Linked DNA regions of Homo sapiens: regions 1 and 3 are each linked to region 2. The links come from fine-mapping of genetic effects on gene expression. A gene starts in region 2. Each other region holds a variant in brackets. All regions are shown on one strand. Distances are from middle to middle.

Region 1 (9,632 bases), 46 kb after region 2:
TCTCCACCCTCCATCCTGAAACCCTCCCCTGGGGCTCTGTCCCCAGCGACACCATGTCCTCCCTACTGAGGGCCCTCTTTCCCCAACCCCTGTGCTCCTGGCTGAGGCCTGGAGTCCCCCTCCCATCCTCTCCCTGAGCATCCCAGCTGGAGCACACATCATCAGGCACCAACCACCCAGCACCAGCCCTCACTGTGGCTTCACCCCCGCCCATCGTTGCCCAAATTCCTGGTGGTCTAATGTTCTTGTGGACAAACCTTTGTGGACTGCCTATCCCCTCTGAGCCTTGACCTCTTCTCTACACCAGTGTCCTTATCTTCTGGCCAGCTGTGCTCCATCACCACCAGTAACTGCAGCCCATGCCTGTCACCTCCATTCAACATCCCACTCTCTGCCCATCGCCTCCTCTCTGCCTGGCTCGCTACTACAAGCCCTGACTCCAACACTCCAGTGCCTCCCTCGCTGCCATGCCCTCACCTTGCCCCATGCCCTCCTGCTCCCACAGCCCCAGTGACTCTGAACATAGCAGAGCCACTCCCTCAAGGGCTCTGACGCTTGCAGAAATCTGCTTCCCTTGCCTTTTCTCTCCTGCCCTCCCAGACAAAGCAAATTCCCTGGAAAGAGCTTCCCTTGCCTTTTCTCTCCTGCCCTCCCAAAGCATATCCCCTGGAAAGAGCTTCCCTTGCCTTTTCTCTCCTGCCCTCCCAAAGCATATCCCCTGGAAAGAGCTTCCCTTGCCTTTTCTCTCCTGCCCTCCCAAAGCAAATTCCCTGGAAAGACAGAGGCTGTCAGGGGAGGATGTCCACTCCTACTTAGAACTGAACAACAGAATAGCACCCAAAAGCCTCAATGCCTCGGAATAAGCCTAACAAAAGATGTACAGAGTAAACCACAACCATATCTTTATGGGAAGATATAGGAGGAGACATCTCGTTATATGTTGCAAAACCCAGAACTGAAAAGATGTCATTTCTCCCCAAATTCATCCAAGATTTGACGTAGTCCCAATCAAAACCCCAACAGTGTGAGACTCACAAGCTAATGCTCCACTTATATGGAAACACAAAAGGCCAAGAACACTAGGGATAAGCCTGAAAGAGAACAAATTTGAAGTACTTACACTATTAGATGTCAAGACTTATTATATACAGTTTGGTAAGTAAGACCTAAGTTACTGGCTTAGGCATAGAGAAATAAACCAATGGAATACGGTTGAGTCCAGAAAATTGCCAGATGAGGCAGCTCACACCTGCAATCCCAGCAATTTGGGAGGCCGAGGCAGGAGGATCACTTGAGCCCAGGGATTCAAGGCCAGCCTAGGCAAAACAGGGAGACTCTCATCTCTACAAAATTTAAAAAATTAGCCAGGCATGGTGGTGCACCCCTGCAGTTCCAGCTACTTGGGAGGCTGAGGTGGGAAGATCACTTGAGCCTGGGAGGCAGAGGTTGCAGTGAGCCGAAATCAACACTGCACTCCAGCCTGGGGGACAGAGAAAGACTCTGTCTCTGACTGTTTTGTTTTGTCCCCAAAACAAAACAGAAATAAACCTACACATGTGTAGACATGCAATTTATGACACTGCTGGGAGTGGAAAAGCCTTCAATAAATGGTGCTGGGGCCAGGCGCAGTGACTTACGCCTGTAATCCCAGCACTTCGGGAGGCTGAGGGGGAAGGATTGCTTGAGATCAGGAGTTCGAGACCAACAGGGTGAAACCCCGTCTCTACTAGAAATACAAAAAATTAGCCGGTTGTGGTGCCACACACCTGTAGTCCCAGCTACTCTGAAGGCTGAGGTAGGAGAATCGCTTGAATCTGGGAGGTGGAGGTTGCAGTGAGCCGAGATCACACCACTGCACTCCAGACTGGGTGACAGAAAATAATCAAAAAACAAAAAAACAGAAGAAAAGAAAAGAATCTTGACCCCCACCCCAGGTGAAATGCAAATCTAACGTAAAGGTAAAATAATAGCACTTCTACAGAGTGGTGACACCAAAAGCAAAAGCACAGTCTATAAAACGGAAAACGGAAAAACTGGACCTTGACAAGATTAAAAACTTTTGCCTTGCTAAAAACCCTGAGAGGAGGATGAAAAGACAGCTACTGAGTGAGTAAATATCCACAGACCACACACAGAACAAAGGACTGCTGTCAAGAACACACGAGTCTCAAAAAATCAGCAGTAAAAATGAAACGATCCAATTAGAAAATGGGCAGAGGATGCAAAGACACACCTCACTGAAGAGGATACACAGATGGCAAATGCGTCCGTGACAAGATGCTCAACATCACCCGCCATTCGTAAAATGCAAATTAGAGCCACAGCGAGATACCGCTGCCCACGAATCCAAACGGCAAGGATGTGAGGACAAAGGAATCTCACAGGAGCTGATGAAAACCTGTGAAATAAAACAGCCACCACTCTGGAGAGCAGTGTGGAAGTTTCTTAAACCAAAACAGCTCAACATGCAACTCCCAAACCACCCAGCAGCTGCGCTCACGGGCCTTTATCCCAGAGAAATGAAAATTTAAGTCAGGCGTGGTGGCTCACGCCTGTAATCCCAGCACTTTCGGAGGCTGGGGCAGGCGGGATCACATGAGGTCAGGAGTTCAAGACCAGCCTGGCTAACATGGCAAAACCCCATCTGTACTACAAATACAAAAATTAGCCAGGTGTGGTGGCGCGAGATCACACCACTGCACTCCAACCTGGCAACAGTGTGAGGCTCTGTCTCAAAAAATAAAAAAAATTAAGTCACACAAAAAACTACATAAATGTTCATGGCAACTTTATTCATAATAGCAAAAAACTGGGGGAAAAAACCAAATGTCTTGTAACAGGTGAAACATGATGGTCCGTCCATCCATACCATAGACGTTTCCTCCAGTCAAAGGAACACACTAGTAGTGCACACAACTGGATGGACCTCAGGACATCACGCCGACCTCAACGCCCACACCCTGCAGCACTCCATTTATGGAGCATTCTCGTAATGGTGAAACCATACAGATGGAGAACATACCAGTGGCTCTCAGGGGTTCAGGCTGGGAAAGGGAGGTGGCTGTGGCTGCAAGAGGGCAGCTCAAGAGGTCCCTATGGTGGCTGTGCTGCATCTTGGCCATGGGCTCACACAAACCCTACAGTGACAGATGCGCAGAACTAAACCACACACACACAGGTAGACACATGGAAAGCTGTGAAATCTGAATAAGGTCAATGGAGCACATTGGTGTCAACATCCCCTTGAACTGCTGTACTCCATTGACAGGTGCAACGTTACCACATGGGTACCCGGGAAGTCTACAAGGGATCTCTGAGCCATCTCTTTTCTTTTTTTATTTATTTTTCTTTATCTATTGTTTTTTTTTTTCCCGAGATGGAGTGTTGCTCTGTTGCCCGGGCTGCAGTGCAGTGGCGCAATCTCAGCTCACTGCAAGCTCTACCTCCTGGGTTCGTGCCATTCTCCTGCCTCAGCCTCCCGGGTAGCTGGGATTACAGGTGTGTGCCACCACGCCTGGCTAATTTTTTGTATTTTCAGTAGAGACACGGTTTCACCATGTCGGCCAGGCTATTCTTGAACTCCTGACCTCAAGTGATCCACCCACCTTGGCCTCCCAAAGTGCTAGAATTACAGGCATGAGCCACTGCGCCTGGCCTTTTTTTTTTTTTTTTTTTTTTTTTTTTGAGATTCTATTCTTTTTTACTGGTTCTTTTGTCAATCCTTGAGCCTGTCCCACATGTCCTCCTCACTATGGCTTCCTAAGGAGCCTCCTCTCTGGTCCCACCTCTGAGGGGGCTGACTCCTACTCACACTCTGGTCTCAGCCTCCTTTCTGGCCCCTGGCATGAGATTCTTCATTCTGCCTCGGCCTCCCGAAGTGCTGGGATGACAGGCGTGAGCCACGCACCCGGCCTCTTTCCCAGTGATCTCAGTGCTCCTCAGATTCCCCCTGCATAACACCCAGCAGCAGAACCATATGAAATTGAAACTATTCCACTATTTTTTATCTACAAACACAAATCATTATTTACCTCAGTAACAGCTGCCTGGCTAAAGCCCTGTGAGGGAGGGAAGACCCCGTGATTTGGACATTTGCACACATCATGCTTCCAGCCCGGGACAGGAGATACGCGTGGACCACACCAGGGACTGGCCCGCTAACCATGAGCTCTCACGCAATGTCTGTCAGGGGCTGGAGAATTGGGGAAGCCTCTCCCCAGAAACCAGGGGAAGCGTTGCATCTCCCTCTTCAATTTCCTTTCCCCTTGCCACCTGGCTTCAAAATAAATCGAATAAACTAACTCACAGCAAGGTGTCAAAGGCCCAGATGCCTAAATGAAAGAAGCTGGCAGCCTGAGGCATCTGCATTTGAAAAGAGACTCAACGAGAACTGAAGATAAAAGCCAGCCCTAGACCAAAAGAAAGGGAAGAGAGGGCAGGGAGGGCTCCTAGCAGCCCCTGCAAATCACACCTTTCTAGAAGCCAGGGCCACAAGCAGCCTTCCCTATGAACTGCCTCATTCAGCCTCATAGCTCTAATGGGCCATAACCCCCACGGAGTAGATGTGGCAACTAAGGTCTGTCAAGTACAATGGTGAGGAAACCAAAATCACAAAAGTGAGCTTCAGAGGGGTCGGCGCTGTAACCCAGGATTTGCTCTGACTCGGTATTCACTTCCTCACAGAGACACAGACCTTTCGGTCTAGGTGGGGCTGTGGGAAGGGGACCTGCGGACAGACGTGCCAGTGGCACAGGGCCTGGGAGTGTGGAAGGAGGCAGCACTGGGACCGTGAGGGTCCCCAGCCTTAGGACAACAGAGGTGTGGGGTCTAGACAACCAACCTAGGGCGCAGGTGACACAGTAAGCCACTGAGATGCCTGTGAGCCTGGGACAGGAGCTGGAAAGGCATTTCCAAGAAAGAGAGCTCACAGTCAGCCAGCACATTCCTAGAAGTTGGAAGGAAAGATGGTAGGAGCTGTCAGAGCAGAGAGATGAGCAGGGGAAGGTGGCCAAGGAAAAAGAAAACAGGGAAGGGCTGGGCATGGTGGCTCACGCCTATAATCCCAACATATGGGAGGCCAAAGCAGGAGGATTGCTTGAACCCAGGAGTTTGAGGCTGCAGTGATCTCTAATCACACCACTGCTCTCCAGCCTGGGCAACAGAGCAAGACTCTGTCTCAAAAAAAAAAAGAGACCGGGCGCAGTGGCTCATGCCTGTAATCCCAGCACTTTGGGAGGCCAAGGCGGGTGGATCACCTGAGGTCAAGAGTTCGAGACCAGCCTGACCAACAGGGTAAAACCCCATTTCTACTAAAAATACAAAAGCCGGTCGTGGC[G/A]GCATGCACCTGTAGTCTCAGCTACTCAGGAAGCTGAGGCACGAGAATCACTTGAATCCAGGAGGCAGAGGTTGCAGTGAGCCAAGATGGTGCCACTGCACTCCAGCCTGGGCGACAGAGCAAGACTTCGTCTCAAAAATAAATGAATAAATAAAAAGAAATAAAGAAAACAGAACGACACAACACATAGGATGACAAAGTTCAAAAAATTCACGTGATGAAGGAGACTGATGATGCATGAAACAGGAGGAAAGCCTTTGAACTTGAAGCCAGCCAAGAACATCATTTGTAGGAGGCAGGAATTGGGACACTGGACCCACAGATGAGGAAACCTACTTTACACACACTGCCTGGTTCTGTAGATAGAAAGACTGACATGTGAACATCGTTACAGAACAGAACGTAACTCTGTCAGCCACACAACATAAAAAAGAAGGCATATCCTACTTCTGGGTACATACGCAAAAGAAATGAAAGTTGGGCCGGGCGCGGTGGCTCACACCTGTAATTCCAGCACTTTGGGAGTTGAGGGGGGCGGATCACCTGAGGTCAGGAGTTCAAGACCAGCCTGGCCAAAATGGCAAAAACCCGTCTCTACTAAAAATACAAAAAAATAAGCCGGGCGCGGTGGCTCACGCCTGTAATCCCAGCACTTTGGGAGGCTGAGGCGGGTGGACCATGAGGTCAGGAGCTCAAGACCATCCTGGCCAACATGGTGAAACCCGTCTCTACTAAAATTACAAAAATCAGCTGGACGTGGTGGCGGGCGCCTGTAGTCCCAGCTACTCGGGAGGCTGAGGCAGGAGAATCGCTTGAACCCAGGAGGCAGAGGTTGCAGTGAGCCTAGATCACTGCACTCTAGCCTGGCGATAGAGTGAGACTGTCCCAAAAAAAAAAAAAAAAAAAGTTAGCTGGGCATGCTGGCATGTGCCTGTAGTCCCAGCTACTCGGGAGGTTGAGGCAGGGAGAACTGCTTAAACCCGGGAGGTTGAGGCAGGGAGAAATGCTTAAACCCGGGAGGTTGAGGCAGGGAGAACTGCTTAAACCCGGGAGGTTGAGGCAGGGAGAACTGCTTAAACCCAGGAGGTGGAGGTTGCAGTGAGCCAAGATTGTGCCACTGCACTCCAGCCTGAGCAACAGAGCAAGACTCCATCTCAAAAATAAGTAAATAAAAATAAAATAAAAAATAAGAAAACTATAAACTGGCCAGGAGCGGTGGCTCATGCCTATAATCCCAGCACTTTGGGAGGCTGAGGCAGGCAGATCACTTCAGGTAGTCTGGCCAACATGGAGAAACCCCGTCTCTACTAAAAATACAAAAATTAGCTGGGTGTGGTGGTACATGCCTACAGTCCCAGCTACTTGGGAGGCTGAGGCAGAAGAATCGCTTGAACCCGGGAGGCCAAGGCTGCAATGAGCCGAGATGACACCACTGCACTTGGCAAGACTCCATCTCAAAAAAAAAGGCGGCGGCGGCGGCGGCGGCAGCCGGGCACAGTGGCTCACACTGGTAATCCCAGCACTTTGGGAGGCCAAGGCGGGCGGATACGAGGTCAGGAGTTCGAGACCAGCCTGGCCAGCATGGTGAAACCCTGTCTCTACTAAAAATACAAAAAATTAGCAGGGCATGGTGGCAGGCGCCTGTAGTCCCAGCTACTCAGAAGGCTGAGGCAGGAGAATTGCTTGAACCTGGCAGGCGGAGGATGCGGTGAGCCAAGATCGTGCCACTGCACTCCCGCCTGGGCAACAGAGCAAGACTCTGTCTCAAAAAAACAAAAAAGAAAAAAGAAAAAGGGAATCAACTACGGATACACAAAACCACTTGAATCTCTAAAACATTGTCATCTGGCAAAATAAATCAGACACAAAAGTATTCATTCCATATGATTCCATTGATGTGAAATTATTTTATTTTTTGAGATGGAGTTTCGCTCTTTTTGCCCAGGCTAGAGTGCAATGGTGCGATCTCGGCTCACCGCAACCTCCGCCTCCCACGTTCAAGGGATTCTCCTACCTCAGCCTCCCGAGTAGCTGGAATTACAGGCATGCGCCACCATGCCTGGCTAACTTTTTGTATTTTTAGTAGAGACAGGGTTTCTCCATGGTGGTCAGGCTGGTCTCGAACTCCCAACCTCAGATGATCCACCCGCCTCAGCCTCCCAAAGTGCTGGGATTACAGGCGTGAGCCCCCACGCCCAGCCAATGTGAAATTCTTAAAAAGGGACGCCAAACCTACAGTAATAGAAAGCGATCACTATTGCCTGGGCTGGGTGTGAGGAAGGGCTTACCACAGAGGAGCACGAGAGAACTTTTGGGGGCAACGGAAATGTTTTATATTTGGATTATGACGTTGTTCACAAAACCCATCAAACAGGCCGGGCGCGGTGGTCACGCCTGTAATCCCAGCACTTTGGGAGGCCGAGGCGGGCGGATCACGAGGTCAGGAGATCGAGACCATCCTGGCTAACATGGTGAAACCCCGACTCTACTAAAAAAATACAAAAAATTAGCCGGGCGTGGTGGTGGGCGCCTGTAGTCCCAGCTACTTGGGAGGCTGAGGCAGGAGAATGGTGTGAACCCAGGAGGCGGAGCTTGCAGTGAGCCAAGATCGTGCCACTGCACTCCAGCCTGGGCGACACAGCATGAGACTCCGTCAAAAAAAAAAACCCATCAAACAAAACCCATTAAACAAAACCCATCACACAAAACCCATTAAAATAGGTGCATCTTACTGTAAGTTACACCTCAATAAAGTTTGATGTAAAAAATCAAAGCATGGGCTGGGCACAGTGGCTCACGCCTGTAATCCCCGCACTTCGGGAGGCCAAGGCAGGAGGATAATGAGGTCAGGAGTTCGAGACCATTCTGGCCAACACGGTGAAATCCCATCTCTACTAAAAGTACAAAAATTACTGGCCGTGGTGGCATGCGCCTGTAGTCCCAGCTACTTGGGAGGCTGAGGCAGGAGAATCACTTGAATTCGAGAGACGGAGGTTGCAGTGAGCTGAGATTGCACCACTGCACTGCAGCCTGGCTACAGAGCAAGACTCTGTCTCAAAAAAAAAAAAAAAGATATAAAAATTAACTGGCATGGTAGCATGTGCCTGTAATCCCAGCTACTGGGGAGGCTGAGGCAGGAAAATCATTTGAACGCGGGAGGCAGAGGTTGCAGTGAGTGGAGATTGTGCAACCGCACTCCAGTCTGGGCGACAGAGTGAGACTCCATCTCAAACAAACAAAAAAACAGAAAGCCACATGGTCAGCAAAGCCTAAAATGTTTGCTGCCTAGCCCTTCACAGTAAAAGCTGGCCAACCCCTGGTCTAGCACATTTATTTGGTGCTACCAGCTTCATCATCACCGCCACCTTCATCAGCTGCTCCTTCTGTCTGGAAAGTTCTTCCACCGGATCTTAGGACAGCATGCTCCTTTGTGGGACTCGGATCACATCTTAAGTGCAACCTCCTCAGAGATCTTCTGTGGTTACCTTGTCATTCTCTTATCTCATCACCTTGTTTTAATTCTTGACATGCCAGTTACTGTTTGTTTCCCTGTTGCATCCTAAGAACTTGGCCAGTTCCTGACTCATAGGCAGCACTCAGTAAGTGCAGTGAGCTGAACAAGTGAACAGCTGCTGAGCCTCTGGCACAGGGGTCCCAGCACAGGATGTGACATGGAAGGCTCTGAGCTCCTGGCTGAGCAAGTCTGATGAAAAGGCCTCCCTTTAGGTGTGCGTGCACCAGTGCCAGGAGAGCCTCGGCATGAAAGAAGGGCCTGGAACTGCCACCCAGTTCTCATTTTGGCCAATGGATAGATGTGGCACAAGTGCTAGGGTTAGGACACGCTCGGGGAAGAGCAAGGGTGGAGCTGGGGGTGCTGGTAGTCTGTGGGGTCACCTGAGACTGAGGTTCCTAAGCTGCATGCAGTGGAGAGCTGTATCAATCGGCTGTTCATTCAGACCAGAGGTTCAAGAATCCCTAGAACACAGACCCCAAAGTACAGTCATACAGGAGGAGCCCCCTTGCTAGGTGCCAGCCCAGGCAACCCTCGGGGCAAAGCAGAGTCCAAGTGCATCCCAAGCAGGTGAGGGATGAGGCCAGGACAGGCCAATCAGAGACACGAGGGATGGCCCCAGCCAACAGGGAGGAAATCCAGCTCGAGCACCAGGAGGGGGAAGGACCCCCTAAAGCCACCCCCATCCCAACCCCAGCCCGGGGGACTTGGGGCAGGGGCAGGCAGCTGGCCCTGTAGAGCTCTGAGCGTCCACCACAGTGACAGGTATGGAGCCAGCATGTGTGC
Region 2 (10,010 bases):
TTTTTTTTAACCTGGTCCAAGGACCCCATGCCCTCAGCTGTCCACCAGAAACTGCTCCTTCAAAGAAGACAAAGGTGTTCCGATTGGGGGTCAGGATCCAGAGGCCCCCCTCACCCTGGCAGGCGGTAGGCGCTGGGCGCTGGGGCAGGTCTCATGTCCAGAAGCACAGGGTCCTGTCCATCTGTCCGAGGTCCATGGCTCCCCTGGCCCCAGACAGCTTCTCTTGGCGTGTTCTCTCATCTGCTGCTTCCCGACCTGGAGCAGGAAGGTGCCGCGCCTTCCAGACCCAGCCTGGGAATCCTCTCCCCTCTAGCACCTTCCCCTGGGCTCTGTGTCTGGAGACTCCCCAGGCTGAGGTCCCTGAGTCCCTCATCAGGTGCTGACTCAGGCACACTGCCCCTCCCCTCAGGGACCCTGCTGTCGGGCTGAGTTTTAGGAAGCCCCTCCTTTGAGAAAGGAGACTGGGCCCTCTCATTGCTGCCTCAGTCCTTCAGAAGAGCCCAGAGGTGGTACTTCAGGCCCAGGGCTGCAGCAGAGCTGGGCTTGCTGTGCAGATAGCTCAGTGCCTGCCTCCCCCAGCACTGGCTGCGGGTGCTGGGTAGGTGGAAATGACTCCTCCAGGGGCTCCTGCCCACAGCCTAAAAGCCAGGGAGGGGCCTGAAGCAGAGAAGAGTCAAATACCTGGACAGCTCCCTGGGTCAGGCCCCGGGGAGGGAGCAGTGGGGTCTAGAGGCCCTCAGACCCAGGTCCTGCCCTTCCTGTTCCTGCGTGGCCGTAGGAGGGCAGGTGGAGCTGCCAGGCGGTTCCTCCCAAGCCTGTCCCTCTGCAGGTGGGGAAGTGCTCCTTGGGCCTCTGCTCTAAAGGACACTGCCTGGGAGAGTGTGAGGACCCGCTGTGCTGGGCAGGGGGTGACCGGGGCAAGGCCAGCCCAGCCCCCCAGGGCCCTCGAAGGAGCTGTGTCTGCTCACCCCTCTCCTGGCCCCACACCCACACACCCACATCAGGCTGATCAGGCCCCTTTCCTTTCCAGGGGTGGCGATAAGCACGTATGCCAAGTACTGTTACCACAAGCTACAGAAGGCAGCCCTGACCGGGGCCAAGAAGGTACGGGTGCGCCTGGGGGGCCGGGGAGGGCAGGCGGGGACACAGAGACCCTTGGTGGACAGCCCCAGGAGCCCCGCCTGCAGTTTGGTATGGGGCAGCAGCGCAGAGGGTGCCACATGGAGCCCGCCTAGGCGGGTGGCGGGGTACGCTAGGCTGACCCCGTGTTCTTCTGGGCTGCACCCTCCCCCGGGGGCTCTTCCTGGGCCCGGACCCCCAGCTCAGGAGCAAGGCAGGCAACGGGCTCAGTCACACCGCACCACAGGGACAGGACCCCGTTCCCTGGACCTGTCCCAAGAGCCTGGCCCCTTCCCCACATCCTCTTCTCTCTGATGCGCTGCTCCCATCATACCCCTCCCCAGCGCTCTCAGCCCTGCCACAGACTTCTGGAAGTTTCACCCCAGCTCAGCTAGCTTGGCCTCTGCTGTGCTCCCCAACAGCCCTGGCCGGCCCAGGACTCACTCCCACCTTCCCAAGGGCCCCTGTGAGCTGGTGCTGTAGACGGTGACTCTGGCCAGGGAGCTGGGCTTGTCCGTAGCTCTAGTTGGAGCCAGGAGTTCACAGGGATGAGAGGAGGGGGAGGCAGAGCCAGGGGCAGCCCAGGAGGAGTTAGGGTTTGGGGGGCGAGGAGGGCTGGTCCAGGGATGGACAGTGGCCTGGGGAAACACCACACTCGGACCCAGGTGTGTGGGGCAGGAATTCTGAAGAGCGCCACCCACCTATGTTCGGGGAAAGAAGACAACCGGGGTGGCGGGGGGTCCTGAGGATGGCCAGGCCAGACCAGGACGGAGCCTCTGTCTTCACAGGGGCTGAAGAAGCCCAACGTGGAGGAGATCCGGCATGCCAAGAACGCCGTGTTCAGCCCGTCCATGTTCGGCAGCGCACTGCAGGAGGTCATGGGCATGCAGAGAGAGCGCTACCCCGAGCGCCAGCTGCCCTGGGTGCAGACACGGCTCTCTGAGGAGGTGCTGGCGCTCAACGGTGACCAGACAGAGGGCATCTTCAGGTGCCACGGCAACCCCGGGCGCCGGGTGTGGGGGCCACAGCCATGTGTCCACCATGCATCTGTGGCATGCAGGGGCCATTAAGCCTCAGGCCCACTGGGCTGCTTCCGCACCCATACCTGAGAGCAGATGGAAGGGTGGGGCCACAGTGTGGAAGCTGACCCTGAGGGTGTGCAGGCCAGGAGAGAGGGCAGGACCCATTCCAAAGAGGCAGCACAGCCAGCCAGGGAGGGCGCCCCTGCAGAGACGGCCACCAGGGGTCCAGAGCGTGCTTGGACACCAGCCATGGGTAGCCTGGAGTGGGAGCCTCAGATGACAGGCAGCCCTTGTCTGTGAACAGGGATGGCACAGGGTGCCACCCACTCCCATGACTCACCTGTCAGGGCAAGGGGTACCCAGGCCCCAGGAGGGCAGCTGGGGAAACTGAGGCTTGCAGGTTGAGCCCCAGTGGCCCTTTGGTGAGGGCATCCACCCAGGGAGCCAGCAGGGGTCCAGGGAGGGACGGTGGCCTGGGGAAGCACCACACTCGGACGCAGGTGTGTGGGGCAGGAATCCTGAAGAGCGCCACCCACCCACGTTCGTGGGAAAGAGGCCAACCGGGGTGGCGGGGGGTCCTGAGGTTTTGCTCCCCTCCCCGGGTCAGCAGGGGCCTACCGGAGGGAGTGTCCAGGCGGAATCATGAAGCCGCAGCACAGGCTCCTGTTGCCTGAGACCTGCCCTGTGCCCTGCAGGGTCCCTGGGGACATTGACGAGGTGAATGCCCTGAAGCTGCAGGTGGACCAGTGGAAGGTGCCCACAGGCCTGGAAGACCCCCACGTCCCTGGTGAGTCCCCCACACACGCTGCAGCAGAGCGGGCCTGGCTCAGGCAGTGGTTCTCAGGGGCCCCTGTCTCCGCCTCTGGGGTCCACCCTGATCCTGCCCAGTGATGTGATGGCTTCCCAGTCACTTCTAGCACATCCTCCCTTCTGCCCATTGGACAGTTTCCCCAGGTGTCTGCTGGGCACCCCGAGGCCTACCTGTGCAATGCAGCCCACTCCCCACCTGCTGCTCCCTGCCCTGTGCCCTTCTGCCGTGCCTGCTATGTCTAGCCTACTCCCCACCTGCTGCTCCCTGCCCTGTGCCCTTCTGCCGTGCCTGCTATGTCTAGCCTACTCCCCACCTGCTGCTCCCTGCCCTGTGCCCTTCTGCCGTGCCTGCTATGTCTAGCCCACTCCCCACCTGCTGCTCCCTGCCCTGTGCCCTTCTGCCGTGCCTGCTATGTCTAGCCCACTCCCCACCTGCTGCTCGCTGCCCTGTGCCCTTCTGCCGTGCCTGCTATGTCTAGCCCACTCCCCACCTGCTGCTCCCTGCCCTGTGCCCTTCTGCCGTGCCTGCTATGTCTAGCCCACTCCCCACCTGCTGCTCCCTGCCCTGTGCCCTTCTGCCGTGCCTGCTATGTCTAGCCTACTCCCCACCTGCTGCTCCCTGCCCTGTGCCCTTCTGCCGTGCCTGCTATGTCTAGCCCACTCCCCACCTGCTGCTCCCTGCCCTGTGCCCTTCTGCCGTGCCTGCTATGTCTAGCCCACTCCCCACCTGCTGCTCCCTGCCCTGTGCCCTTCTGCCGTGCCTGCTATGTCTAGCCCACTCCCCACCTGCTGCTCGCTGCCCTGTGCCCTTCTGCCGTGCCTGCTATGTCTAGCCCACTCCCCACCTGCTGCTCCCTGCCCTGTGCCCTTCTGCCGTGCCTGCTATGTCTAGCCCACTCCCCACCTGCTGCTCGCTGCCCTGTGCCCTTCTGCCGTGCCTGCTATGTCTAGCCTACTCCCCACCTGCTGCTCCCTGCCCTGTGCCCTTCTGCCGTGCCTGCTATGTCTAGCCCACTCCCCACCTGCTGCTCGCTGCCCTGTGCCCTTCTGCCGTGCCTGCTATGTCTAGCCCACTCCCCACCTGCTGCTCTCTGCCCTGTGCCCTTCAGCTGTGCCTGCTCTGCAGACACCCCCTCACGGTGGCTACACAGACGACTCCTGAGAAAAATCCTGTTTTGCACAACTCTGCTGGCGTGACCCACATGCCTCCAGGATCGAGTTCAGGCCCCCAGGAGCCGAAAGGCCCTCTGGGGTCAGGGCCCAGCCTGGCCAGATGGGCCCTGTCCAGAATGAGCCGGCCCTCCCAGCCTGTCCCCCACAGCACCCCTCCATGCATGTCCGCCACGGGACCCCATTTGGCCCAGGGGTGCCCGCCGAGCAGGGCCGCTGAGCCCCGTGCTGTGTCCCCAGCGTCCCTGCTGAAGCTGTGGTACCGGGAGCTGGAGGAGCCCCTGATCCCGCACGAGTTCTACGAGCAGTGCATCGCGCACTACGACAGCCCCGAGGCGGCGGTGGCCGTGGTGCACGCGCTGCCCCGCATCAACCGCATGGTGCTGTGCTACCTCATCCGCTTCCTGCAGGTACTTCCCTCCCCGGGGGTCCCCGCTGCTTTCCCCTCCCCGCCCCGCCCCCGCCCCTCCGCGCCCACCCTCGCTCCTCCACCAGGTCTTCGTGCAGCCGGCCAACGTCGCGGTCACCAAGATGGATGTCAGCAACCTGGCCATGGTGATGGCGCCCAACTGCTTGCGCTGCCAGTCCGACGACCCGCGCGTCATCTTCGAGAACACCCGCAAGGAGATGTCCTTCCTGCGGGTGCTCATCCAGCACCTGGACACCAGCTTCATGGAGGGTGTGCTGTAGCGGGGGCGCCCGGGGACAGGAGGGATGTCCTGCCGCCCCCAGCCAGGCCGAACTCCGCACTCGCTCTCCCGGCAGAGGGGCCAGAATCGCCCGGCCCAGCCCTGGAGCCCCCTCCACTCCCCCAGGCCCCTGGCCCCGGCGCTCCCCACGTCTTCTGCCTGGTCTGAGGGTGCAGCCAGGGCACAGCAGCGGCGGGGAGGGCGCCTCTGGCCCCCCACCTCACGGCCAGTTCCCGCGGGCACCGCCTCGCCCTCCGCTGGCCGCGGGTCAGCTCCGAGAAAGTGCCTTCTGTGTCCTGGAGCCGAGCGACGCTGCCTCCTTGGGGCCGGGCTGCCTCCCTGTGGCTCCTGCGCGCCCTGGCCTGGGCCTTGCCCAGCCGCCCCGGTCTCTCCTTCCCTTTCTCCTGTCCTCGTCCTGGCCTGCAGCTCTTCCCAGCCCCGAGAGAGCTTCCCGACCTGTCCCCGCCTCCTCTCCCTCCCTCGGCCCGTGGTCCCCAGCTGGTGACTGCTCAGGAGTTTGGGGGCTCCAGGACAGTGGGCCCGGGGCCTGGCAGGCTCTCGGTGGGTGGGGTGGGGGCCCCCAAACCAAAGTCCTCTGGGGTAGGGAGCAGGGCTGGGCAGGCATTCTGGGGGCAGGGTGGGGGAGGGGCGAGAGTATTTTTTTCTTCGTGTAACTGTAAATCCAGAATCTATCCTGCATCGCAGCCCACCGTGTATAGAGATATAAATAGAGGGAAAGATATAAGAACTAAATTTGCTAATGACATAGTTTTAACCTAAATGCTATTTATCTCTGAGCCGTCCCCGTCCTCCGTGCAGAGCAAGTTGAGGTCATTCCTTCTTTTCTTCTCCGATCTTTTTTCTTGGCTTCTGACCAAAAACCAAGCTCTACCCCATCCCCATCCCAGACCTGCAGGAGACGAGCGAGCGGGAAGGCGCCGGGCCCGGGACTGTCCGTTCTCGGGGCCAGAGCTGCTGGGGGACCGAGTTTGTACATTTTCCATTTTGGAATTTTGAGTTCCAATTGTTGTAAAACTTAATTTCTCCCCAGTTTTTATATATATATTTTTTAGAGTTCCGTTTTTATTTATTAAAAACAAAAGCCCCAGCCCTGCCGAGGCCTGGGCGGCGTCCTCAGTCGGGTGGTCCCGGGGCCTTTGCGGTCCCGCCCGGCTGAGACGCTCGCCCCGACGCATGGACCCGAGAGGCGACGACACGAGTGAATAAAGTGCACATGGACCCTGCGCGTCCTCCCGTTCCTTGTGGGCGCGGCCGGGGGCGGGAAGAGACGCGGGGCGGACCGGAAGGGGCGTCACCGGCACACGCCTCTCGGAAGGCCAGGGCGGGCGAGCCCCCGAGGCCCGAGGGAGAGGGAAGAGCGCCGGGCCCGGGTCGCGGAGGCGGGCGCCGCCGGAACGCGAAGCGCGGGGCTACTGCGGGCAGGCGCGAGTTCGCGCAGCACCGCCCCCGGCGTGACCTGCTGGTCGCTTCCGGCGCGGGAGGAGAATGTGGCCGCCTTGCGGGACGCTCCGGACCCTGGCCTTGGCGCGGTCGCGGGGAGCCCGGGCCTGCAGCGGGGATGGGGGCGTTTCCTACACGCAGGGCCAGAGTCCGGAGCCGCGGACCCGCGAGTATTTCTACTACGTGGACCACCAGGGCCAGGTGGGCGGGGGCAGGGCCGTTGCTCGAGAGGCGGGGCCGGGAGAGGTCTCTGGGCGGGGCGGGGGGGGGGGCGTGGCTCTGTGGGCGGGACCATTGCTCGAGGGGCGGGGCCGGAGGGACGTTCCAGGGGGTGGGTGGGTGGGCGGGGCCTGCGCGGTGGGCAACCTCGACTCCTCAGAGCTGGAGGAGAGCGCGCTGGAAAGACGGGGAGTTGGGTCGGTCCGGGCCGAGGCTCCTACATGGGCCGCGTCCCTGCTGCGTTGTGCAGCTTCGGACTCTGTCCTACAAGTCCCCAGCCCCGGCGCTGACTTCTCGCCGCTGCCAGGGAGACACCCGGGCCGCCCTGCCTTTTTTTGGAAGCCCTGTCAAAAGGCAGCTGCATGTCCGGGAGGCAGCAGGCCAGGTAGTCTCCGCGGAGGAGGTGGTACAACTGATTACAAACTTGAAAAGAGGGAAAAGGTGCGGGAAAGAATTGGCTGACCAGGGAGCAGAGGTGCGCATAGACGCGGATAAGTCGGCGGGGCCCCCAGGTTTACCTTTCACGCGCCTCCCTGCATGCGGTGTGCACAGACAAGCAGGAAAAGTGGGCTCGGGCCGGTTCAGGACCTCCCGAGCTTCAGGACCTCCTGAGCTTCCCCGCCCCCACCTGCACGCTGGGACTTATCACGGCCTGGCCCTCTATCTGCAGCTTTTCCTGGATGATTCCAAAATGAAGAATTTCATCACCTGCTTCAAAGGTAATGCTGTGCCTCCCTCTCCAGCCCCTTCTTTCTCCCTTCCGGGCAGCCCCTGATGGGCTCCCCGACTCTGCCGACGGGCCCAGCGCACCAAGGAGTGGGCGTCCTGCGCTCAGGAGCCCCGCTGAGTGAGGCCAGGCGAACCTCTTACCGTCGGCGCCTGCCCTCGGTATGGTCCTGGGCCCGGAGGCCTTGGGAGCCCAGCGCGCTGAGTACACGCACCCTTCATCCCCCAGACCCGCAGTTCCTGGTCACCTTCTTCTCCCGCCTGAGACCCAACCGCAGCGGGCGCTACGAGGCCGCTTTCCCCTTCCTCTCGCCCTGCGGCAGAGAGCGCAACTTCCTGCGCTGCGAGGACCGGCCGGTGGTCTTCACGCACCTGCTGACCGCGGACCACGGGCCTCCGCGCCTCTCCTACTGCGGCGGTGGCGAGGCCCTGGCCGTGCCCTTCGAGCCGGCGCGCCTGCTGCCCCTGGCCGCCAACGGGCGCCTGTACCACCCGGCGCCGGAGCGTGCGGGCGGCGTGGGCCTGGTGCGCTCCGCCCTGGCCTTCGAGCTCAGCGCCTGCTTCGAGTACGGGCCCGGCGCGCCTGCGCTGCCCTCGCACGTGCGCTGGCAGGGCCGCCGCCTCGCCCTCACCATGGACCTGGCCCCGCTGCTGCTCGCGGCTCGGTCGCCCTGAGCGGGGCCAAGGGAAAGGCGGGAGGCCGCGGGCGCCTCTCGCCCCGCTCCCCCGGGACTCCACGCCCCGGAAAGCCCGCGCCACCCGCGCTCGCGGCAGCCTAGTGCGCCTGCGCGCTCGGCCCCGCCCCCACCCGGCGCTGTCCTTGGTGCTGCCGCGGCCCGGCCCTCCCGGACACCCCGCTCCCCACGGCGCGCGCCCCCCGCGCACCCGACTCCGGCGCCCTCCGGATTGGCCTGCGCTCGAGACGTCAGGCACTGGCGGCGGGCGCGGGGCTCTGGTGCGCGTGCGCGAGCGTCCCCCGCCCCCTCCCAGCCCGGCGACTGCTCGGGCCCGGCCGCCACCTGCACGGCGGGGGAGCCGCTCGCCGCGGGAGCGTCAGGTGAGGGGACGCCCGACCCAAGGTCACCAGGCGTGGGGGCGCTGGGGGATCGGGGACCATCCCGGCTCTGACCCTGGTGCGCTCCGAGAAGGGCGTGGGTCCTGGAGGGGGATGGGGAACGCGGAGGCCACGCCCTCCCTGAGCCCGGCCGAAAATCAACCGGCTCTCGTGGGTAGCAGAGGAGGCCGTGGGGGATACAGGCACCAGGTCGCAGCGCTGCAGAGGTGCGCAAGGGCCGCCCAAAGACCAGCTTGGGCCTCGCACTGCGCCCGAGGCAGACACAGGGCGTTCCATCCTCTTCCCTCCCCGCTCCCGCACAGAGGGGCGCCCAGGAGGCAGTGACAGTCGTCGCGGAATCCTGCGTGTGACACCCCGCCCCTGCCCAGCGGATTAGGGAGTTGTCCTCTGGTAAAAGGATTTCTGGGCTGCTTCCAGCTTGGGGCCCTCATCCCTGCCCTGGCAGGCCTTTCTACACCGATCTGCATCTAGTGGGGGGTCAGCGTGAGCAGCAGCGCCGTGAGTTCTGAGGCCAAGAACCTTCTCCACTTGAGAAGCCTTCCTGGGGGAGGCTGAGTGGGCCAGGCCTGGAGCCACGTACCAACACTTTATACCCAGGGGAATGGATCCCAAGGGCCCAGATAACGCCCCCAACTTCTTGGGGTTCACACGCGTCCTGAGACATCTGGGAACTGCCTCTGCCTGGGCCAAAGCTATTCCATTAAAACTTTATTGCTGTGCTTACTTATTTCTAGTGACTTTAAATAATCATGTGAGTTACAATTTAGGGCAAGATTTAAACACCAAGGCCACTTGGTCCTGTCCCTTTCCACATGACTCGAAAGGAGGAAGAGCTGATGGACAGGCAAATGTTTGGGGAGGCCGGCCAGATGAGGCTGGGAGACAGGACACCTGCAGCCCTGTTTTCCCTGGCTTCGGGTGGGCTGGCTGGCTTAGCCCAGATCCCTACTTTTAAAACTGGGCTCCTTGTTCCTGAAACCAGACCCCAGCCTTCCCATTTCTTTACGACAAGTACATGTATATGGTCCCCCAGCAAACTCCCTGCTCCTTGCTGATCTCAGAGGTCACACTGCTCCCAGAGCCCACTTGGGAAGCCACACCAGAAACCCAGTTGGTGGCCCAAGGCGTCCCCTGTCCCACCCCAGCTTTCCCAGGGCCCCATCTATCCCCAAAGACAGGACACCTTTCTGGGGACCGGCATGGGAAGCACAGACCCATGGCTCCTGAACCGAATTTCCTATTATTTTTCTCATCCCCCAATTCTCTGACAGGTTACCTGAGAAAAAGGCCCAATTCTAGTTAAGCTGGTCCCACCCCTAGGCCAGCAGGAGCAGGTGCTGGACAAAGCTGTGCCTTGACTTCCCTGGGGCTCGTAGCTCCTCTGAGGCCAGCTCTGCCCAGGCCCCCACAGGATAACAAGGAGGCGTGTCTGCCCAGGGCCTGCTCTCCCCCTCCTAGCCATGCTTGGGTAATGGGACCCCGGGCTTTGTCACCTAAGCAAAGTTCTCAAGCCATACCCTGTACTTCCAGCTTCTTGCACCCTAGAACCAAGCAGCAGCCACTTGCCTGGGGGTAGAGTCGGGGGCAGCAAGCGACACACATCCACGTCCTGAGCAGGAAGCTCCTGACCTGCTGGGCATGGGTGGAGAAGGAGAAGGTGACAGGGTTGGGTGGCTCTCCCTACATGGTCACATCCTGTGAAGACACTGAGGACACCAG
Region 3 (10,010 bases), 74 kb after region 2:
TGAACCATTTGCAACAAGCCCCACAGTTTGGGTACCTTCTCCAGTCCCAGCCAAACCCCACATCCAACTGGACTTGCCATGCCCCACGCTAGGCTCCTGCCCACCTCACCCAGGCCAGGCCAGGCTTCCTAGGCAGCCAGTGCTCCAGGAGCCGGCCCACCCCTCCTCCCCCATCTTCACATCCGCATGGCAGTGGGACTCAGCCCTTAAGCAGCCTAGGGCTGTTAGGGTACCTGGCCCAGGTGGGTTTGACATGCCCTTTCCCAGGTAGCAGCAGGGACAAACTGGTTGACACCCAGAGGCAGAGTACAGTGTCCCCACCTTCCCTGTGTCTTTCCCTCTCTTTCAACTCCCCAGTCCCTGTGAGAAATGAAGCAGGTTCTCTGTCAGCTTTCTTTACACTTACAGGAGCTGGAAGTAGCTAATGGGGCCTTGTTTCCCTGCTTGTGTTTGAATTGGGGGCCTGGATGAGGAGCTACTTTTGTAGCAGGTGGTGTAGGGCTAGTCTAGGTTGCCATTTCTCCAAACTCTGGATCTCCAAGTCCTTCTTGCTGTGGCATGACCTTGTCGGGAGGACCCCAGTGTGCCTGGGTGGGGAGAGGGCACTGGCTCTAACCCACCCTCCTGGGTGTCAGGCACCAGGGCCAGCTAGGGGAGCACTTTTCAGAGCCACTGGCTCCCAGAGTTAGCAGTTACTCCTTGGCTTTGGCAGTGCCTCAGCTTCCAAGATGTGCCCACTCTCCAGCTCCTTTTTCCTGGCTCACAACCTTCGATCCTCCCAGGCGGAAGAACTCTCCTTTTTTTTGAGACGGAGTCTCACTCTGTCACCCAGGCTGGAGTGAAGTGCCACGATCTCTGCTCACTGCAACCTCCGCCTCCCGAGTTCAAGCAATTCTCCCTACCTCAGCCTCCCGAGTAGCTGGGATTACAGGCGCCTGCCACCATGCCCGGCTGTTTTTGTATTTTTTAGTAGAGACGGGGTTTCGCCATGTTGGCCAGGCTGGTCTCGAACTCCTGACGTTGGGTGATCCGCCTGCCTCGGCCTTCTGAAGTGCTGAGATTACAGGCATGAGCCACTGCGCTTGGCCAGAACTTTTTCTTGGATCTCGAGGGAGACTCCAACAAGCCAAGCCAATGGTGTGAGGCCACGGGGGAACAGGGAAGTCTCCTTGTCTCCCCATTGGTGGGTGGGCTGGAGCTGTAGCTGGACCTGGTGGTGATGGGCCACATGGTACTGGTCCCTGGTGCACTGCATCCCCCATCTAGACTGGCCCGGCACAGAGTGATGGCTCTGCTTCTGACCGGAGCTCCTGGTGACCAGGCCTCTGAGCCTAGCTGGTTCAAACCGGCCTGCACTGTGCAGAGTGGAGTTCTGCTCTGGGCGGCCAGAGGCAGGGAGCTGAACAGGTGTAATGGAGACCGAAGGCGCTGGGGCTGCCCTGGCTGGTGGCCCTCCCTGGCCTGGGGGCTCTGTTCAGTGACTTCCCTGGGAACAGAGCAGCTGAGCGAGGAGTGCTGTGGGCACAGGCCTCCCTGAATGCTGCGAAGAACACCTCCGGCGGGTGGCTCTCGGCTGTGAGTGGTGCCCCTGGAAGGTCAACACAGACCTGGAGACCTGGGCTCTGGCCTGCTCTGCTCCCTGGAGAATCTGGGCACAGATGGTGTGGGCCCCCACATGCTGCCTTCTGCGTGTCCCTGGTTGGGCCCATGCTGGCCATCACCCCAGCTTGGGTTCAGTCTACCATATTCTACTAGCTTTCCTTGGTGACCACGTTGATTGGCTGTCTCGAGCCAGCCAGTGTCAGGAATGCAGCAGGTTCCACCCTCTGTTCCTGCTAGAACGCTTTTCCTGACCCCAGCAGAACACATGGCTCAGGGTGGGCACCAGCCAAGCTGGGGGCTGACTTAGACAGTCCCTGACTCTGGTGAGAAGAGGGGAGTGGCCATGCTGAGCTTTGTGTGTTCTCCCTGGCACTGGGGCTGTGGGGGACAACTCCATGGGCCTCTGGAATTGGCTGGGTCCTCAGTAACTCGAGAGCTTGTCATCCAGATACCAGATGCCACCAGTGCTGGCAGGGAAGCCTCGGGTGGTGCCCCAGGTCTGAGCCTTTGGGCCTGCAGGGCCAGCTGACCCATGGGCCTGTGCCCGTACGATGATGCCTCACAGGCTGGGAAACCTGCTTGGGTGTCAGACTGAGGCCCTCATGCAAAAGGTTTCCGCCACCGCCGAGTCCTGCCTCACGTCAGGTTGGGGCTGCAGCCAGTACAGCAAGACTCAGCTTTTATGTTCTCTGTGTGGGTGTTAGATATGTTCTGGGGGACTGGCCTGACAAGGTGTGCAGCCACCTTCTGGAGTCTCAGGTGGGTGGCAGGAGGGCTGGTGGGGCAGCAGTTACACCTGTGCAGGAGCTTCTGGCCTGACCAGGCCGCGCAGGTGGTCAGGTCGTTCCTGCCGGCTCCCTGCTCTGCGGCCCGAGGGCAGTGTGGCCTGTTGGCACCTCTGCCCATGGGGCACCTCCTCTGGGAAGAGACAGCCTCAGCGGTGCCCGGGACGTTGCAGCCGCAGCCTCATCCCTGACTTCTCTCCCTCCATTTTGGCCCTTCAGACGAGGCCCAGTGTGATGCTGCGTAAGACAGACCTGGCCCTGACCCTTCCTGCTGCTGTCAGATGAGGCCCTGGGCCTTGGTGCTGGCACCTGGAGGAAGGGACTGCGCATTGTTCCCACCCCTCATGGGGCATTCTTAAGGCAAAAACGGGCTCACTCGGGTGTAAGTGCCGGGCAGGGGCCTCTCACAGATGTGGTCCAGCCGCTCCCTCTAACTCGGCCCTGCACAGTGCCCTGCCATTCCCATGCTCTCCTGCCTGAGGTGTCCTCTCCCTGCCCCTGCCCACCTCTTGGGCCCGGCAGAGGCAGCGCCCCCACTTTGAGACTTTGTTCTCTCCTTGCTACAAGGATCCCCTCCTGCCCCATCTGACCAGGGTGTGTCCACTCTGTTCTGTGGGTGGGTTGGTGTGTGCCGTGGCCCTCCCGCCTGTAGCGCCCATGTCTCTATGCCACATGTTGACAGTCCATTGATAACAGCCCAGGAAGCAGAGATGGCTCCTCTCTGCCCGAGCCCCACACCCCCAACCAGGCCAACAGTGTGCAGTCCTGGGGGGGTGGAGTCACCATCCACATGTCCAAGGAGCTTCGGGCCCCTCTTCCCCAGTCTCCTGGGCAGCAGTACAGGACTGCAGCTGACTCGTTCTTTGAGGTGAGGAAAGTGGCAGAAAACATCTTTGTAAATACGTCTGCTTAGGTATCTAAAACACAGGAGCAAGGAAGATGTTCTGGAATCTCTGGCTAGTTGGAATTTTTGTTTTCTGTGGTGGTTATCATTTGAGTTACTTTTAGATCTAAGCAGCCTTGTTCTGAATGTGGGCCCGACTCTGGGGATTGATTGGCCACCGTTTGAGGTCTGACAGCAGTAGCAGGTGAGGGACTTCAAATCCAGCCTGGGTGGAGGGTTCGAGTCCTGGCTTCATGCTTAACAGCTGTGCGGCCTTGGACAACGTGCCAGTCCCTCTCAGACCCATGTTTGATTCGGGAGGTTAGGGGCCGAGCACGCGGGGTGCATGGGGTGTGCCCTGAAGCACCACTGGCCCTGGTGAGGCCTTGCCTGCATGCAGATGGCAGAGGAAGGGGGACCTCCAACTGGCTGAGCAGCGCTTTTGGGGTTTGTGCCACAGGGAAGCCCTTTGGCTGCATTTTGGCTCTGACGACCTCTGTCAAGGGCCTGTGGGTCCCTGACCCCTGGGTGAGCGAGGGCACTGCTCCCATGGGCCTGGGCACTGTGCCATCCTCCAGTGGCAAACAGGAGGTCCCCAGGGTCTGAGAGAACCATGCAGTCCAGGTGTGAAAGGGGTCCTACAAGGTCAGCTGACCATAGAGACCTTGGGACCACCAGGAAATCGTGGGGGCCCTCAGCCAGGGGATGGGGTCAGGGCTCCTTGAGCCTGTTCCGCCCATCTAGCTCCCCTTTAACCCCAGGGAAGAAGTAGCTCAGGTGGAGACCCTGGGTCTGCATGGGGGTCACGTGAGCTGCCTGTAGCCAGCAGGGGGGAGGGCTGGGTGCTGTCCTGAGGATGCAGGTGCAAATGGCCATTTCTGGGCCACCTGTGTGTATCAGCATCTGCAGAGGGGCCTGGGGTCTGGCTCCTGGGGTTGGCAGCCCCAGGGGCTCTGCCATGGCTGCCCAAGGTGGTGATATTTCCTGTCTGCCTGTTGGGTGTGGGGCAGTGCCACCCTGTCCCATCCCACCTCATCAGCACAGAATGAAGCTGGTCCTATACTCATCACCTGTGCACATGAGGAAACTGAGGCCCCAAGAGGGGAGCCCAAGGTCATATTACTGGGGATCTGTGGGCTGGCGTCTGAGCCCAGCACTGTGGCTTCAAGCCCACATCTGCCCTAGGAGGGCCCAGGAGGCCCTGTGATGTCATTCCCCCGTGATGTCATTCCCCCATGACATCATTCCCCTGTGATGTCATACATGTGACGTCATTCCCGTGCTGTCACCACATGATGTCATCCCCTGTGGTATCACCTCTGTGATGTCAATACCTCTTTTAATGTCATCCCCATGGTGTCATTCCCCCCATGATGCCATCCCCCCATGATGTCAGTCCCCCATGATGTCAATTTCCCACAATGTCATCCCCTGTAATGTCAATACTCCCTTTGATGTCATCCCCGTAATGTCATCCCCTGTGATGTCA[T/G]TCCCTCATGATGCCAGTGTGATGTCATCTCTGTGATGTCATTCCGTGATGTCACCCCCCATGATGCAATTCCCCTGCAATGTCATGCCCCTGTGATGTCATCCCCCGGTGATGTCATCCCCCCATGTGATGCCAGTCTCCCATGATGTCCCCCCTGTGATGTCATTCATGTGACATCATCCCGTGATATCATTCCCGTGATGTCTCCCCCATGATGTCATTCCCCATGTGATGTCAATTTCCCACGATGTCACCCCTCTGACATCATCCTCTGTGATGTCTCGCCCATGATGTCATCCCCCATGGCGTCATTCTTGGTCGTGGGGGGTTGTGGATCCCCTCCTCTCCCCTCCCTTGGGGTCTTCCTGGCTGGTGGGGAGAGGTGGCCTGGCCTGGGTGCCACAGCAGCTGCTCTGGAAGGTGCCCGGGCTCTTGGGGGCCTTGGCCCACGCCATCCCCTGGACTGTGCGGCGCCCTCCAGGGCCCAGCTTCTGTTGGGTGTTGGGCACAAGTCAGAATCAAGTGCATCTGGCCAGATGCTGCCAGGGCCAAGGATGCAGCTGCCTGTGGCCTGGCCTTGGTGTAGAGCCAGAGTCTTGCGCAGGGGCTGAGGGGACCCAGATGGTGGGGAGGCTCCGGAGCATGTGACCAGGGACCGTCCTGCTGTGGACAGACCTCCTGGGCTGAGTGTTGGTCGGGACCGGGCCATGCACCTAGAGATGTCCTTTGACCAGTGGGGAGGGTCTGGGGGTGAGTGTGGCTGTGTCCCTTGGCTACTGGGCCAGTGTAGTCCAGGGCACTCTAGGGACTCCCTGTGTTCTGACTTGAATGGAGCTATTGGGGCTGAAGGGGCAATGGCCCTGTGTCTCCTCGGAGCTTGCAGGTCCTCTTGGAGGCCCAGAGAGAGCCAGAGGAGGGCAGGGTCACTGCTGCCTCCTCATGGTATGGAATTGACTGAGCCCATGCTGGGATCTGGAGGCCCCAAAGGAATGAGGCCTGTGGCCAGGGGCCGGCCCAGGAGCTGGGGTGGCTTTCGGGGGAGAGGCCCGCAGTGCTGGGAGGTAAGTGGTGATGTGCTTGGCAGCCTCAGTGCTCCCTTAGGAGGGTCTAGGACCCCACCTCGAATCTTCCTGGGCTATGCAGAGCCAGGAAGAGAGGCCAGGTGGCCTTGGTGGGTGGCATTAGATGCTCCAGCCCTGCCTGGAACTCCCTTGGGGGTCGGGCCACAGCCAAGAAGAGTGCTGTTTTGCCTGTGCTAAGGCCACTGTACGTGCAGAGCTGGACCCAGAACCTCGTCCAAGGCCCCCGGCAGTCTCACCAGGAGGTGTTTAGAGCTGGCCACGTGGAGTGGCATACCTCCGGGGGGCGGGGGGCTGTGAGAGGACAGTGGTGTGGGCCCTTGGTCTGTGCCTCCCACAGGACAGCTGCTTCAATAGCATCTGTGCCCCCTCCTGCCTGTAGTCCACCCACCACTGACCCCTGGACTTGGCTGGCGGATTTTCACACCTTCTCCTGGGGGCAGGTCTCAGCTTGTCCCCAACCCAGTCAGAGCCAGTCTCACTCCCTGCCTCAGGCAACTGTGTATGTTTTAATTTTTATTTATTTATGTATTCATGAGATAGAGTCTCACTCTGTCTCCCAGGCTGGAGTGTAGTGGCACCATTTCGGCTCACTGCAACCTCCGCCTCCCGGGTTCGAGCCATTCTCCTGCCTCAGCCTCCTGAGAAGCTGAGATTACAGGCGCTCGCCACCATGCATGGCTAATTTTTGTATTTTTAGTAGAGATGGGGTTTCACCATGTTGGCCAGGCTGGTCATGAACTCCTAACCTCAGGTGACCTGCCTGCCTCGGCCTTCCAAAGTGCTGGGATTACAGGCATGAGCCACCGCCTGTAATTTTAATTTTTAACCAAACTGAGAACTTGAGGATTGAATGCAGGTAACGGGTGGTGTTCATGTGGATGTGGATTCCATGAAAGAGGGCTTTGTCCTCACTGTCGGTTCTCCACATGTAGGTCCTTTGACTCAGCAGGCCTTAGGCCTAGTCCACAGGTGCTGAGTGAACAGCCCCAGCGTCTGACAGCTCCTTAGCTTGGGGTGCACAGGCAGCTGAAGCAGTAGGATGGCAGCTCAGACTTCCCAGGGCCCCACGTGTGCAGGGCTGGCCTCCCAGCACCACCAGGCAGGGCCGGCCTCCCAGCGCCACCAGGCAGGGCCCTGTGAGTGTCCCCTCCCTGACACACACCTTGTAGAGAGGCTGGGCCTGGGCAGGCTGCTCTGCTGCACCACATCCCATTCTCAAGAGGGTCCCAGGTCCCAAAGGAAGCCTGTAGCCCAGTGGCTTTCTGGAGGTTTGCATGGCTGGCAAGCCTGGGCCGGCTGCTGGAGAGGCATCAGGACAGGAGCAACTCTGCTGACTGCTCCCCTCAGCGAGCTCTAAGAGTCTTTGGGTGGGAGGCACATCACATCCCTGTCACTCCTGGCTGGCCCTGGAATGCCTCAGCCCACACACCCCACTCCAGCCAGGGCTGTGGGAACTGTGTCTGCTCAGGTACAAAAGGCTTTGTTTGTTCTTGGACCTCTTGGTTCTGGTCTGGGCTTCCCACCTCCCATGCTGTGAGCCCCCACGGGCTGGGACCGCAGCTTGCCATGTGTCTCTCAGTGGCACCAAGTGGACGCTCGAGGCTTATGTTGAGGGAGTGAGAGCCAGGATAGGCCACTGGGCGTGCTGGGAGCCCACACAGGCAGGGAGCCCAGCGGGAGGTGCCCTGCTCCTGCCAGCCCCGGTTACCCCAGCAGGCTCGGCACCCACTCAGAGCCCCCATTTCTGCTCCCCAGGCACTCCCTGTGTGCCTACCTGCCCTTGTCCTTGTCCTGGGCCAGCTTGGCTCCTGCCTCCCAGCTCTGAGGAGGTCTCTGCAGGTAGCCAACCTCCCTGGACGAGGGGGCAGCTGCCTCCTCTCACCTGGGCTCACCCTGAGCCAAGTCCTCTCAACCCAGGATAAATGGCCTTTCTGAAGGCCCAGAGAGCATGCCTGCCCCAGTGTGGGAGCTGCATCCGCTCCCCACCTGACAGTGATGGCCAAGAGCCCAGTGTTCCTGGAGGGCTCCCAAACTCTGGACCTGTAGGGGGGTCAGGGCAGTCGCTGGTCCCTAAGGGAAAAGCGTGACCCTCGGCCCCAGGTGGCTGAACCCGTCACTGCCAGGGCGAGCTGTCACCTCTGTGAGCTGATGAGGCCTTGCTTTTAGGACCTCTAATCTCTGCAAGAACCCAAGCTGGCTCTGCCTGTTTCTCCTGAGCAGCTCGCAGTGTTCACCACACTCCAGCACGACTCGGGACAGGCACGTGCGCCCCTCTGCACCAGCTGGAGTCCCTCAGGACACCTGGCTGGAGCTGATGGGCATGGGCGGGTGTGTGCGAGCATGAGCCCGCAGGTCTGTGAGCTTCGTCTCCCTTTCCTTCTTCGCAGTGTACTAATGGTCACTTGATGTGCGCTGGCTGTTTTATCCACCTACTAGCAGATGCCCGGCTGAAGGAGGAGCAGGCCACGTGCCCCAATTGTCGTTGTGAGATCAGTAAGAGCCTCTGCTGCCGGAACCTGGCCGTGGAGAAAGCCGTGAGCGAGCTGCCTTCAGAGTGTGGCTTCTGCCTGCGCCAGTTTCCCCGCTCCCTCCTGGAGAGGCACCAGAAAGAGGAATGCCAGGACAGGTAACTGAGGGTCAGGGGCTTAGCCTTACAGGCGGGGCCCAGGACTGCTGGGAGCCCACCCTGGTGCAGCAGGGCCCTGTGCAGGGTGGTCTGGCTGTCTCTGCTGTCTGGGCCTTGGGGACCACCTGTGTAGCCCAGTGACGGCCCTGTGGGAGGGTGCCTGCACAGGATGGGGACAGGTGGGTTTTGCACCCAGTTGTTATCCGGACATGAGCCTAGCCTTCCAGTGCTCTTTGTGGCTGTGGGGGAGCCCCTTGAAGGGCCCAGGACAGCGTGTCCAACGCAGGACCTCAGGGAGCTTGGTGTGAGGGTACACTGCCCATGGCTACCCATCCAGTGGAGGCAGCCACCAAGTCTCCTGCAGTGAGGCTGTGCAGGACCACCACTGCCAAACAGAGGAGAGAACCACGCCATGGTGCGGGGCACACAGGCTCAAGCTTGCACTCTTCCTTCCCCTCTCTCTCCCTTTTTCTGCCTGTCTCCTTTCTCTCCACATGCTGCCACTCTGACCTCATCCTGGGGGGTGGGCTCACAGTTACGTGTGTCCTGCAGGAAGGGGTTCTTAGCTGGATGGAAGCCATATGGGAGGACAGCTTGTTGCAGCCTCCTGTTCGGGGCTCAGTCTGTGAGTGATGTACCTGCCTCCCCCAGGGTAACCCAGTGCAAGTACAAACGCATCGGCTGCCCATGGCACGGCCCCTTCCATGAGCTGACGGTGCACGAGGCTGCGTGCGCCCACCCGACCAAGACAGGCAGTGAGCTGATGGAGATCCTGGATGGGATGGACCAGAGCCACCGCAAGGAGATGCAGCTGTACAACAGCATCTTCAGCCTGCTCAGCTTCGAGAAGATTGGCTACACAGGTGAGGCGCCCCGCCGCCTGCTGCATGCCACACAGGTGTGGGTTGGGGGGCTGGCAGCCAGGAGTCTGGGGGCAGCAGGCTCTGGGCACTGGGCACTGACAGCGCCGGACAGCCGGGCTCTGGACAAGCTCCCGGTGGACAGGTGGACACCTCGGTCGAGAAGACAGGCCGGAGACTGAGTGGAAGGAGGGGCCGAGGCAGACCCCAGGTGCACACCTGTGTGGCTCTCACAGCAGCCCCGCCCACCTGTCCTCGCCACCCTGGCTTCACCATCCCTGCAAGGTGGCATCTCACTGTGGGGCTCCAGAGCCTCAAGACAGTCAGGGTCTAACCAGAAAGTGGGCAGGTCTCAGGGGGCCTGGGAGCTAGGGGCCTGCCCCTCGGACCCTGGGGCAAGAAGAGCACCCTGCCGAGTGAGGTCCTACCTGCAGGCAGTCACTGCCCCGGCCATGGGCCTCTCAAGGCTGGCACGAAGCCATTCAGGGAGAGGGCTCCACAACAAGCTGAGGGTGCCCGACTCAAACTGTAGAACCGGGAGTGGACACCCACAGACGCCCAGGCTGGATGCGTGCGCAGGCACACTGGATCTCGTGGCTCTCTGGGCCGCTGCCACCGCCTTTGAACGTGTCGGGGAGCAGGAGCCAGGCCAGAGCCTGGCCCAGAGGACAGCGAGAAGCACC

Direction of the effects. Alleles are on the strand shown, and positions count from the first base shown. SD is a standard deviation of normalised expression in the study named. Not every link is listed here.
For the expression in subcutaneous fat of the gene that starts at base 6,122 in region 2, allele G in region 3 goes with a lower level than allele T (moderate effect, 0.71 SD a copy in GTEx).

The links. PIP is the estimated chance that this variant, and not a neighbour inherited with it, causes the effect. A credible set is the group of variants that fine-mapping cannot tell apart.
Region 1: its variant is the best candidate, but not a certain one, in a credible set for the expression of C8orf82 in whole blood (TOPMed, PIP 0.88).
Region 3: its variant is the best candidate, but not a certain one, in a credible set for the expression of C8orf82 in subcutaneous fat (GTEx, PIP 0.85).

What each region holds. Positions count from the first base shown.
Region 1 is chr8:144,479,265-144,488,896 of GRCh38, reverse strand. All of the region lies in intron 1 of PPP1R16A (protein phosphatase 1 regulatory subunit 16A), which reads right to left. Among named protein-coding and RNA genes, the nearest start is that of PPP1R16A, 6.1 kb to the right of the region's middle. RefSeq lists enhancers at 3,228-3,927, 3,928-4,627. The variant G/A (reference allele first, on the strand shown) is at 5,336.
Region 2 is chr8:144,525,223-144,535,232 of GRCh38, reverse strand. It overlaps C8orf82 (chromosome 8 open reading frame 82), which reads left to right and starts at 6,122. Exons shown (of 3, transcript NM_001001795.2): 1 at 6,122-6,472; 2 at 7,161-7,209; 3 at 7,446-9,500. The coding sequence starts at 6,317. The coding sequence ends at 7,891. LRRC24 (leucine rich repeat containing 24) reads left to right here and starts at 8,200. Exons shown (of 5, transcript NM_001024678.4): 1 at 8,200-8,273. It overlaps ARHGAP39 (Rho GTPase activating protein 39), which reads left to right. Exons shown (of 12, transcript NM_025251.3): 8 at 1,031-1,104; 9 at 1,908-2,107; 10 at 2,837-2,928; 11 at 4,362-4,531; 12 at 4,617-6,054. The coding sequence ends at 4,811. RefSeq lists silencers at 5,156-5,255, 5,987-6,576, 6,587-6,636, 6,594-6,888, 8,016-8,405 and enhancers at 6,617-7,473, 8,331-9,187, 9,920-10,010.
Region 3 is chr8:144,451,679-144,461,688 of GRCh38, reverse strand. TMEM276-ZFTRAF1 (TMEM276-ZFTRAF1 readthrough) reads left to right here. Exons shown (of 5, transcript NM_001408018.1): 3 at 8,229-8,467; 4 at 9,119-9,330. ZFTRAF1 (zinc finger TRAF-type containing 1) reads left to right here. Exons shown (of 4, transcript NM_001330618.2): 2 at 8,229-8,467; 3 at 9,119-9,330. Among named protein-coding and RNA genes, the nearest start is that of MIR10400, 5.9 kb to the left of the region's middle. The variant T/G (reference allele first, on the strand shown) is at 4,760.